2 separate regions of the Homo sapiens genome follow, and region 1 is linked to region 2. The links come from fine-mapping of genetic effects on gene expression. Tissue or cell type: tibial artery. Region 2 holds a variant in brackets; the other region holds the start of a gene. All regions are shown on one strand. Distances are from middle to middle.

Region 1 (5,380 bases), 24 kb after region 2:
CCGGGCGTGGTAGCGCAGACCAGTGGTCCCAGCTATTTGGAAGGCTGAGGCAGGAGGATCACTTGAGCCCAGGAGGTTGAGGCTGCAATGAGCTGTGTTCACACCACTGCACACCAGCCTGGGGAACAGAGTGACACCCTGTCTCAAAAAACAAACAAAACAACAACAACAACAAAACAAGCGTTTAAGGATTTAGGAAGGTAATGCTTCCACCACAGGGCTTGAATGAATGAATGTTAACTTCCTCTTACCTATTCTTGTTTTTTTTTTTTTGAGATGGAGTCTCGCTCTGTCACCCAGGCTGGAGTGCAATGGCGCGATCTCGGCTCACTGCAAGCTCCACCTCCTGGGTTCACGCCGTTGTCCTGCCTCAGCCTCCCGAGTAGCTGGGACTACAGGCGCCTGCCACCACGCCTGGCTAATTTTTTGTATTTTTAGTAGAGATGGGGTTTCACTGTGTTAGCCAGGATGGTCTCAATCTCCTGACCTCATGATCCGCCCGCCTCAGCCTCCCAAAGTGCTGGGATTACAGGTGTGAGCCACCGCACCCAGCCCCTCTTACCTATTCTTTTGGAGGAGAAAAAATCAAGAAGCCTTCCCAGGTTGTAATTTCCCAAGCTGTTTTTTTTGTCCAGCTCCTCTGCATATCTGACAAAATTTCCCATAGCATCTTTCAGTAACACTTTTATCTTGCTCATACTTCCCCCATCATCACAATTACACTTATGTTCACAGGGTCTCTGGGGCTTGCTGTCATTCCTTCATCTGGCCAAAAAATGCTTCTTCCTGAAAGCCCCGAGTGAAGCATTCTCCTGGTTCTAAGTACAGTTCATTAGCTCCCCGGTTTCCCTTTTCTCCTCCTTCAAGTACACAGATAACTAATCTAAAATAGGGCCTTCCCAGTCCGAACCGTTGGTATCAAGTACACAGGAGTGCCATAGCCTTGAATCTAATTACCTAGTACTTTGAATAAATCTGGAAAGACTAGTATGCTTGCAAGATGATACAAATGTATAAAATAAACATTTAAATTATACAGAATTTTTTTTTTTTTTTTTGCTTTGCTTGTCTCTACACAGCCAATAATTTCTGAAGATCAGACAGCAGCCCTGATGGCCCATCTCTTTGAAATGGGATTCTGTGACAGGCAGCTGAACCTACGGCTGCTGAAGAAACACAATTACAATATCCTGCAGGTTGTGACAGAACTTCTTCAGTTAAACAACAACGACTGGTACAGCCAACGCTATTGAGGAGTGACCTTGTATTAAATAACTGCCTGCTGCTCAGAGATGATCTTTATTCTGTCATTGGGGTATGGGATAGAAGCCCTTGCTTATTTTTAATCTGATGAATCTGTATAGAGCCCATCGTTGAGTTACCAAGACAATACCTGCTACAGTATTTTGGGGAGCAAACTAAAGACCAGAACTTAAATTTTCACTTTAGACATTGGATGAATAGTATGAAGACAGTTTTTCAGTTGATTTGGATAAAACTATTTTAGTGCATTGACAAGTGTAACTTCAACTTCATATAGAACCATTTTTCTTTCTGCTTTTATTGAAACTGAGTATTTTTCTTTGGCTAATGTGGATTTTTTATGGGGATATCTGTTAATTTTCAGGTTTTGAAAGACATTAACCTCGGAAGTTGTTTTTAAGAATTATTCTCATAATTCTTATTCTCATAATTTCTGTAATCCACCTCAAGCTTCATAGTTATTTGGCATTGAAATAACACCCAGAGCATGATAGAAATGTTGTTACTCTTCCTCTCTCAAGGAGAAAGTAATTTTCCTGCAATACTTAATAATTGGCACCGTTGCTTTCTAAAGACTCCATGGTGCATTCAAGAGTATCCAACTTCAAGGGAATCTCCGCATTTCAATGAAAGGAGGAAGAGTGTGCTGATAAACCTACCAGCACCTATTGAGCAATGTCTATTATAGTAATTTTGCATACATTTTTATTTAAGGGAAAAAATATAGGTATTGTGAAATATTTTGCTAATCTTATAGAAAAGGAAAAAATCCCGTTATTTAAAGGGAAAAGTAAATTTAACAGTTGCCTTTTTTCTTAATGTCAGGGCAGATCTTATTTTACAGTACAGTGGGGGAAATAGAAACATGTGAAAGGCAAAAGGCAGGCTCCTAAATTAATGTCAGTGAAGTTCAGGGTGGGCAAATGAGTGTGTGTGAGGTATAGGAAATGCTGATGACTTCTTTAATGCTTGAAGTCCGTTCACAGGTATCTAGCCCTAGAATGCCTAGAACAGGAAGAGGCAGCTGGTGTTCTGCAAAACTTGGACAGGGGCAAAGTTGCTGAAAAAGTTTTGGTTTAACCCGAAGATAAGTGGAAAAGAGCTTGTCCATGAACCCAGGTTCTCACTCTGTTTACAGAAGTGTGTTGAGTACAGTTGGTGAAGGAAGAGGTAACAAAAAATGCTAAATATTTTATCCATGAAAATGACTTCCAGAAAAGGAAGAATATGAACCCCAGACCGAAGGGGAAAAGATAGTTAATAGTATTATCTAACCTGGTTGGTATTTGTAATGAATGGTGATTTTAATTAGTCATTAGCCATAATGATGTTTATTTACAGTATAACTCCTGAATGCTACTTAAATAAACCAGGATTCAAACTGCAAGCCAGCCAGGCCGTTCATTATTTAAAACGTTTTAATCGGGGCTTCCGGGTAGAAGGTGGAGCGGCAGGGTGTAATTGGGTTGATGGGTGGGACCTGTCTTGACCATCGGAGTTTTATAATCGAGGGCCAGGAGGGCCCGGGTTGCTCTCCTGGTTATGTATGTACTTGTACATAACCACCTAAAGAATGGTGAAATAAATGTTCTTGGAAATTCCTACCCGGACTGGCTAGTCCTTGCGGAAGCAGCGTCCGGGCCCTCGGGTAACGTTTGAAGAGCTGGCAGCGTCTCAGGCTGCTGCGTGGCGAAGGGGCGGACCGGGGGACGGGGGGGTGGGCCCTTAGGGGCTGGGGCGGGACTTCCCTGGGCACTGAGTCAAAGCTTGAGGGGAGTGTTCGCTCCCGCATTTTCGATTCCACTCTCTTCCGTTTCTGTCGCTGCAGTCGTCCGCGGGTAAGGCCCTCCCTAGACCCTTTATACCTACTTTACCTTTCGGAGGTCAAGACACCTCCTGTTGCCGCCTCCTCGCCCAACACACAGGCGCCCCCCGCACGGGTACCAAGCTTGACTAACGGCCTCTAGGGGTGTGTGGTGGGACTTGAAATCCTCCCTTAATGAAGTCACACCTTCTCCGTCCGCTTCCACCCGGTCGGCCCATGGCAGAGCCCCCATGTAGCCCAGGAATCGGCTTGGCCCTTCGGGGAGGTCAGCGTCCTTACTATCCCCACTCTCCAGTGCGGCACATTCGTTCCCCTAGGACTCCGGCCGGTTGCCGGCCCCAGGCGGTGCTTCTCCCCACCACCGCCCAGCTCAGCTCAGCCCAGCCCAGCCCACTCTGCCCTTAGAGGCCCTTCTCCCCAAAGACGCACTCCAGAAGTCTCGCCCTCGTGCGGCTGAGGAGCCTGGGATCCCAGACCTGAACAAGGTGAGCATCCCTATATTTTAGCCCAGAAAGATCTGTGTGGCTCACTTGCCGGCCTCGTTCTGTCACACAGAGTCCAGATTTAGCCTTGAGTTTTCCTAGTGAAAGACAGACCCTGGTATCACTATGACCCTCCTCAGGCTTTCTTACCCCGCCTCAGAAAGCAGTGAGGTGTCTGCTTTCTCCCAGGGCTTCTTTAGATAGGGGTCTTAACCACACCTGTGACCAGTCTGGCCTCCTCTCTCCTTGATTCAAAGAATCTCTTTTCTGCCCTATCCAACTTCCTTCCCTTAAACTGAATGACAGCTCAGCAACTTTTCCAGAGAAAAATTAAATGCTCTGACAATCACTTATGGAAGTTCCTTAAAGTGAAGTAACTTCTGCTTTTCTTTTGTTTTCCCTTTTGTAGGCAGATTGGTCTCTTTTAAAATAATGAAAGGAGTCGAAATGCATTGAGACTTCTGAGAGTCCCATGTGACCACCCAGTTTTTCACATCCTATCTTCCTTAGGCTTGAGCTTGCTTAAACTGTGGTGAAGCTCCTTGCCAGTCTTGAGAACTTCAAACCAAAATTACATCTGGCGTCAGTGCTAACAAGCTTAGCACTGAACTTTGGTCTTTTCTCATTAGTGAAACCCCCGCCCCTGAAGAATGGGTAAGACGTTTTCCCAGCTGGGCTCTTGGCGGGAGGATGAGAACAAGTCAATCCTGTCCTCCAAACCAGCCATTGGCAGCAAGGCTGTCAACTACTCCAGCACCGGTAGCAGCAAGTCTTTTTGTTCCTGTGTGCCTTGTGAAGGAACTGCTGATGCCAGCTTCGTGACTTGTCCCACCTGCCAGGGCAGTGGCAAGATTCCCCAAGGTGAGTGGCCCAAGGCTCTGGAAATAGCCTGGAATCCAGGGAAAGTTCTTAGCCTGTTGGCCTGGGGCAGCCCCTCTGAGTCTCCTTGGATGGGGTTAGATCTGCTCCCAGCTCTTGACCTCCCAGTCTCAGGCTGGCCAGGGAGATACTTAACTATCCTTGGGTTCCCTGCAAAAACCTGCCCTCCTTCCCTGGTTGTATTCTCCAGCCCCTTGTGGGAAAGAAGGATTCTAGCCACTGTGCTTCTGAGCAACACTGTGTGTCCTAGGATTCATTCAGTTCAGGAAGTTACAAATGAACTTTCCAAAGATGCTGGGCATCTCTGATTTGCTGGTGACTTTCAGAGATTCTTCATACCTATTAGTGGAAATCTCACTTCCATTCTAGAGATGGCAAAGCTGAGCTGCCAACTTTGGTAGCAGAGTCCAGTGCTTCCAGTCCTGCTCTGGGGCAGATGTGGCATGTTTCTAACATTGCTCTATGGTGTGGGTGGAGGCGTGCTTCTGGGAAGCTGGCACAGTAAATATTTGTCACAGTTGCATCTTGGCCCTCCCTCTCACCTTCTCTCTCTCTAGAGCTGGAGAAGCAGTTGGTGGCTCTCATTCCCTATGGGGACCAGAGGCTGAAGCCCAAGCACACGTAAGCCCCCCTTCCTCCCCTAGCTTCACAAGCCATTGCCCCTGGGGGCTGCTCCCTTTGTCTCCCCTGTTTTGATCTCCCTTAATTTCTTCCTATTAGTTCTTCCATAGAAAGCCTGAGCCTCAGAGGTACCAGCTCCTTACGTCCAAGGATTTTTTCCTGATTTAGAAGCTCCTGGACCGGGTGTGGTGGCTCATGCCTGTAATCCCAGCACTTTGGGAGGCCAAGGCAGGCAGATTACTTGAGCTCAGGAGTTCAAGACCAGCCTGGGCAACATGGTGAAACCCCATCTCTATCAAAAAAAAAAAAA
Region 2 (5,380 bases):
AAATTTTTTAAATTAGCCAACAGGCATAGTGACCCAAACCTATGATACTAGCACTTTGGAAAGCCAAGGTGGGCGGAGCCCGGGAGTTCGAGACTAGCCTGGGCAACATCATGAAATTTCACCTCTACAAAAATACAAAAGTTAGCCAGGTATGGTGGTGCGCACCTGTAGTCCCAGTTACTCAGGAGGCTGAGGTGGGAGGATAGTTGAACTCAGGTGTCCAAGACCAGTCTGGGCAACACAGTGAGACTCCTGTCTCCAAACTAAAACAAAAACCTTAGCCAGGTGTGGTGGCATGCGCCTGTAATCCCAGCTACCCGGGAGGCTGAGGTGGGAAGATCGCTTGAGCCCAAGAGACAGGCTGCAGTGAGCCATGCACTGCATTCCAACATGGGTGACAGAGCAAATTGCCATCTCAAAAAAATAAAAATAAATTTCTAGGCTGGGCACGGTGGCTCATGCCTGTAATCTCAGCACTTTGGGAGGGCGAGGTGGGTGGATCACCTGAGGTCGGGAGTTCGAGACCAGCCTAGCCAACATAGTGAAACCCCATCTCTACTACAAATACAAAAATTAGCTGGGTGTGGTGGTTGGCACCTGTATGTAATACCAGCTACTTGGGAGGCTTAGGCAGGAGAATCGTTTGAACCCAGGAGGCGGAGGTTGCAGTGAGCCAAGACCGTGCCATTGCACTCCAGCCTGGGCAACAAGAGCAAAACTCCGTCTCAAAAATAAATAAATAAATAAATAAATAAATAAATAAATAAATAAATAAATTTCTAGTTAACATTCTTACCAAAGAAATAGCAAGTTGAGTGTAAACATTACATTTGTTGTTGGATTTAATAAAGCAAACACAAATCCTAGTATTTTCTAGCATAACTTACCACACTCTTCTGTTTTGATGTCTTTGAAATGTTATTTAGGAGAAGATAATCACGTCGCATGTTTTTGTTTCATAATGTATGCTCTTAGATGGCAGTTAAACAGGGAAACCAACTGCAGATGCAAGTCCACGAAGGGCACCATGTCGTTGATGAAGCCCCACCCCCAGTTGTAGGAGCAAAACGACTAGCTGCCAGGGCAGGGAAGAAGCCACTTGCACATTACTCTTCACTGGTGAGAGTCTTGGGATCAGACATGAAGACCCCAGAGGATCCTGCAGTGCAGGTATGAAGGGTATGGCCCAGTCTATCCAATATCGTTTCTTTTTTCTTTTTTAAATAAAGCTGAACAGGTTTCTTTATTTTATTTTTTTATTATACTTTAAGTTCTGAGATACATGTGCAGAATGTGCAGGTTTGTTATATAGGTATACATGAGCCATGGTGGTTTGCTGCACCCATCAACCTATCATCTACCTTAGGTATTTCTCCTAATGCTATCCCTCCCCTATCACCCCACCCCCTGACAGGCCCCCGTGTGTGATGTACCCCTCCCTGTGTCCATGTGTTCTCATTGTTCAACTCCCACATATCAGTGAGAACATGCTGTGTTTGGTTTTCTGTTCCTGAGTTAGTTTGCTAAGAATGATGGTTTCCAGCTTCATCCATGTCCCTGCAAAAGACATGAACTCATCCTTTTTTATGGCTGCGTATTATTCCATGGTGTACATGTGCCACATTTTCTTTATCCAGTCTATCATTGATAGGCATTTGGGTTGGTTCCAAGTCTTTGCTATTGTGAATAGTGCTGCAATAAACATACGTTTGCATGTGTCTTTATAGCAGAATGATTTATAACCCTTTGGGTATATACCCGGTAATGGGATCGCTGGGTCAAATGGTATTTCTGGTTCTAGATCCCTGAGGAATCGCCACACTGTCTTCAACAATGGTTGAACTAATTTACACTCCCACCAACAGTGTAAAAGCATTCTATTTCTCCACATCCTCTCCAACATCTATTATTTCTTTTTTTTTGAAACGGAGTCTCACTCTGTTGCCCAGGCTGTGGAGTGCAGTGGCGCGATCTCGGCTTATTGCAAGCTCTGCCTCCCGGGTTAACACCATTCTCCTGCCTCAGTCTCCTGAGTAGCTAGGACTATAGGCACCTGCCACTACGCCCAGCTAATTTTTTTTATTTTTAGTAGAGACAGGGTTTCACCGTGTTAGCCAGGATGGTCTCGATCTCCTGACCTCATGGTCCGCCCGCCTTGGCCTCCCAAAGTGCTGGGATTACAGGCGTGAGCCACC[G/A]CGCCCGGCCTCCAACATCTATTATTTCCTGACTTTTTTTTTTTTTTTTTTTTTTTTGAGACAGAGTCTTGCACCTTCGCCCTGGCTGGAGTACAGTGGCGTGATCTTGGCTCACTGCAACCTCTGCCTCCCAGGTTCACGTGATTCTCCTGCCTCAGCCTCCCGAGTAGCTGGGATTACAGGCACACACCACCACACCTGGCTAATTTTTTGTATTTTTAGCAGTGACAGGGTTTCAGTATGTTGGTGAGACTGGTCTGGAACTCCTGACCTTGTGATCCGCCCACCTCGGCCTCCCAAAGTGCTGGGAGTACAGGTGTGAGCCACCATGCCCAGCCCTGTTTCCTGACTTTTTAATGATTGCCATTCTAACTGGTGTGAGATGGTATCTCATTGCGGTTTTGATTTGCATTTCTCTTTTTTTTTTTTTTTTTTTTTTGAGATGGAGTCTCACTCTGTCGCCCAGGCTGGAGTGCAGTGGTGCAATCCGGGCTCACTGCAAGCTCTGTCTCCCGGGTTCACGCCATTCTCCTGCCTCAGCCTCTCGAGTAGCTGGGATTACAGGCGCCCACTACCACGCCTAGCTATTTTTTTGTATTTTTAGTAGAGATGGGGTTTCAACATGTTAGCCAGAATGGTCTTGATCTCCTGACCTCGTGGTCCACCCGCCTCAGCCTCCCAAAGTGCTGGGATTACAGGCGTGAGCCACTGCGCCCGGCCTGATTTGCATTTCTCTAATGACCAGTGATGATGAGCTTTTTTTCATAGGTTTGTTGGCCGAATAAATGTCTTCTTTTGAGAATTGTCTGTTCATATCCTTTACCCACTTTTTGATGGGGTTGTTTTTTTCTTGTAAATTTGTTTAAGTTCCTTATAGATTCTGGATATTAGCCCTTTGTCAGATGGATGGATTGCAAAAGTTTTCTCTCATTGTGTAGGTTGCCCGTTCACTCTGATGATAGTTTCTTTTGCTGTGCAGAAGCTCTTTAGTTTAATTAGATCCCATTGTCAATTTTGGCTTTTGTTGCCACTGCTTTTGGTGTTTTAGTCATGAAGTCTTTGCCCCTGCCTATGTCCTAAATGGTATTGCCTAGGTTTTCTTCTAGGGTTTTTATGGTTTTAGATCTTATGTTTAAGTCTTTAATCCACCTTGAGTTAATTTTTGTATAAGGTGTAAGGAAGGGGTCCAGTTTCAGTTTTCTACATATGGCTAGCCAGTTTTCCCAGCACCGTTTATTAAATAGGGAATCCTTTCCCCATTGCCTGTTTCAGTCTATCCAATTTCTAGATTTATTTCTCATTGTCTTTGTTGTAAGATTTGCACATTTATCAGAGATTTGGGAATTAGTGTGCTCCTCTCTCTGACTTTTGAAACTGGTAATAGTTTACTTCTGTAGAAGGGGAGCAGGCTAGAGACTTTGTTTTCCTTTAGTACGCCTTCATACTGTGACTTTTTAAAAAATTATATACTTGTATGATTTCACAAAAGAAACCTCAAAATAATACACTCCAGGAAAAGTATTTTAAATAGAAAAAGTAACCTCTAACATCTCGGCTTGTGTTTTCTCCCAGTCGTTTCCACTTGTTCCATGTGACACAGACCAGCCTCAAGACAAGCCCCCAGACTGGTTCACAAGCTACCTGGAGACGGTGAGTGTTCTGTCTCGCTTGGGTTTTAACTGCGGTGTTGGCACAGGTGGAATGTGGAAGAAATAGAAAACTGAACCCAGGTGGCTGCTGCCTCTAGTACCGGTGAAGAGTGGTAGCTTATAATTTCCAAACTTAGAACAGTTCCAGTCGAGAAAGCTCTAACCTTTGCAGTGAAGTGTCAGAAAAAGAGGGAGTCTAATTCTAAGCATGTAAGGGAGAGGGACAACTCTCTGCTTGAGAAAAAGTTAGAAATTTACTTATCAAAAGGATGTTTTGATATTTTCTTCGAACCAGTTTAGCTGTGGAAGGAATAGACCTTTTGCTATGTTTCTGTCTATTCAGTAGCAGTTGTTTATTGTGTTTTTGTATTATACCAGAGACAGTTAGGTTTCAGATCTATTGATATCTTCACATTTTTTTCTGATATTGGAACTGAGTTTTTTCCCTACCTTCTGCTCCATATTCTAGTTCAGAGAACAAGTGGTTAACGAAACGGTTGAGAAGCTTGAACAGAAATTACATGAAAAGCTTGTCCTCCAGAACCCATCCTTGGGTTCTTGTCCCTCAGAAGTCTCAATGCCTACTTCAGAAGAAACATTGTTTTTGCCAGAAAACCAGTTCAGCTGGCATATTGCTTGCAACAACTGCCAAAGAAGGATTGTTGGTGTCCGCTACCAGTGTAGGTAAGCAGTTGCTTGGGAGTAGCTAGCTAGTGATAGACCTTACAGCTTTTACCTCCCTGGCTTTCTGTGTAGGTAAAGGGAAATTAATTGTACCCTGTTTCTGAGCATTAGATGTTGTAGCTGTGAGTTGGAAGCACAAGCTACTCTTCACCCACATGCTTTGTATGTTGTAACTATTCAGATTGTTGTGTTCAAATGTGCATTTGGATTAGCAAAGCCAGGCAAAATTATGTTCCCCTGAACGGACAAAATTAGATCACTAAGGGTAGTTCCTCGGTTGTTCCAAATGCCTTTTTTTTTTTTTTTTTGGTGACAGGGTCTCTGTCACCCAGGCTGGAGTGCAGGGTGCAATCATGGTTCACTGCAGCCTCACCCTCCCAGGCTCAGACAATCCTCCCACTTCAGCCTGCCAAGTAGCTGGGATCACAGACTGCCTTTTAATTATTTTTTTGGAGATGGGGTCTCCCTATATTGCCCAGGCTAGTCTCAAACTACTGGACTCAAATGATCCTCTTCTCCATGGCCTCCCAAAGTGCTGGGATTACAGACATGAGCCACTGTGCCTGGCCCCATGTACTTTCACATCTTACCTTCCTCCCATAGATTTTCATTTAAAATGGATATGGGTTAAGTGTTATTATCCTCATTTTATTAATGAGGAAAATTGAGGCATGGCATAGTCAGATGGCATGCTCAGGTTACCTGCTAGTTGGTACTGGAGCAAACATAGAAGTATGGTCTTATATCTCCCTACCCCAGGTACTTCCTATTCTGCCATTGTGTATTGTGCCATTCTTTCCCCACAGCCTATGCCCATCCTACAATATCTGTGAAGATTGTGAAGCAGGGCCA

Direction of the effects. Alleles are on the strand shown, and positions count from the first base shown. SD is a standard deviation of normalised expression in the study named.
With allele A in place of G in region 2, the expression in tibial artery of the gene that starts at base 3,054 in region 1 is lower (small effect, 0.31 SD a copy in GTEx).

The links.
Region 1: TMEM106A starts here. The variant in region 2 is fine-mapped to the expression of TMEM106A in tibial artery (GTEx, PIP 0.97).

Annotation. Positions count from the first base shown.
Region 1 is chr17:43,208,822-43,214,201 of GRCh38, forward strand. It overlaps TMEM106A (transmembrane protein 106A), which reads left to right and starts at 3,054. Exons shown (of 9, transcript NM_145041.4): 1 at 3,054-3,101; 2 at 3,406-3,573; 3 at 4,200-4,431; 4 at 5,007-5,070. The coding sequence starts at 4,221. NBR1 (NBR1 autophagy cargo receptor) reads left to right here. Exons shown (of 21, transcript NM_005899.5): 21 at 1,080-2,867. The coding sequence ends at 1,253.
Region 2 is chr17:43,185,275-43,190,654 of GRCh38, forward strand. NBR1 (NBR1 autophagy cargo receptor) reads left to right here. Exons shown (of 21, transcript NM_005899.5): 6 at 976-1,170; 7 at 3,768-3,845; 8 at 4,314-4,528; 9 at 5,335-5,380. Among named protein-coding and RNA genes, the nearest start is that of NBR1, 17 kb to the left of the region's middle. The variant G/A (reference allele first, on the strand shown) is at 2,196.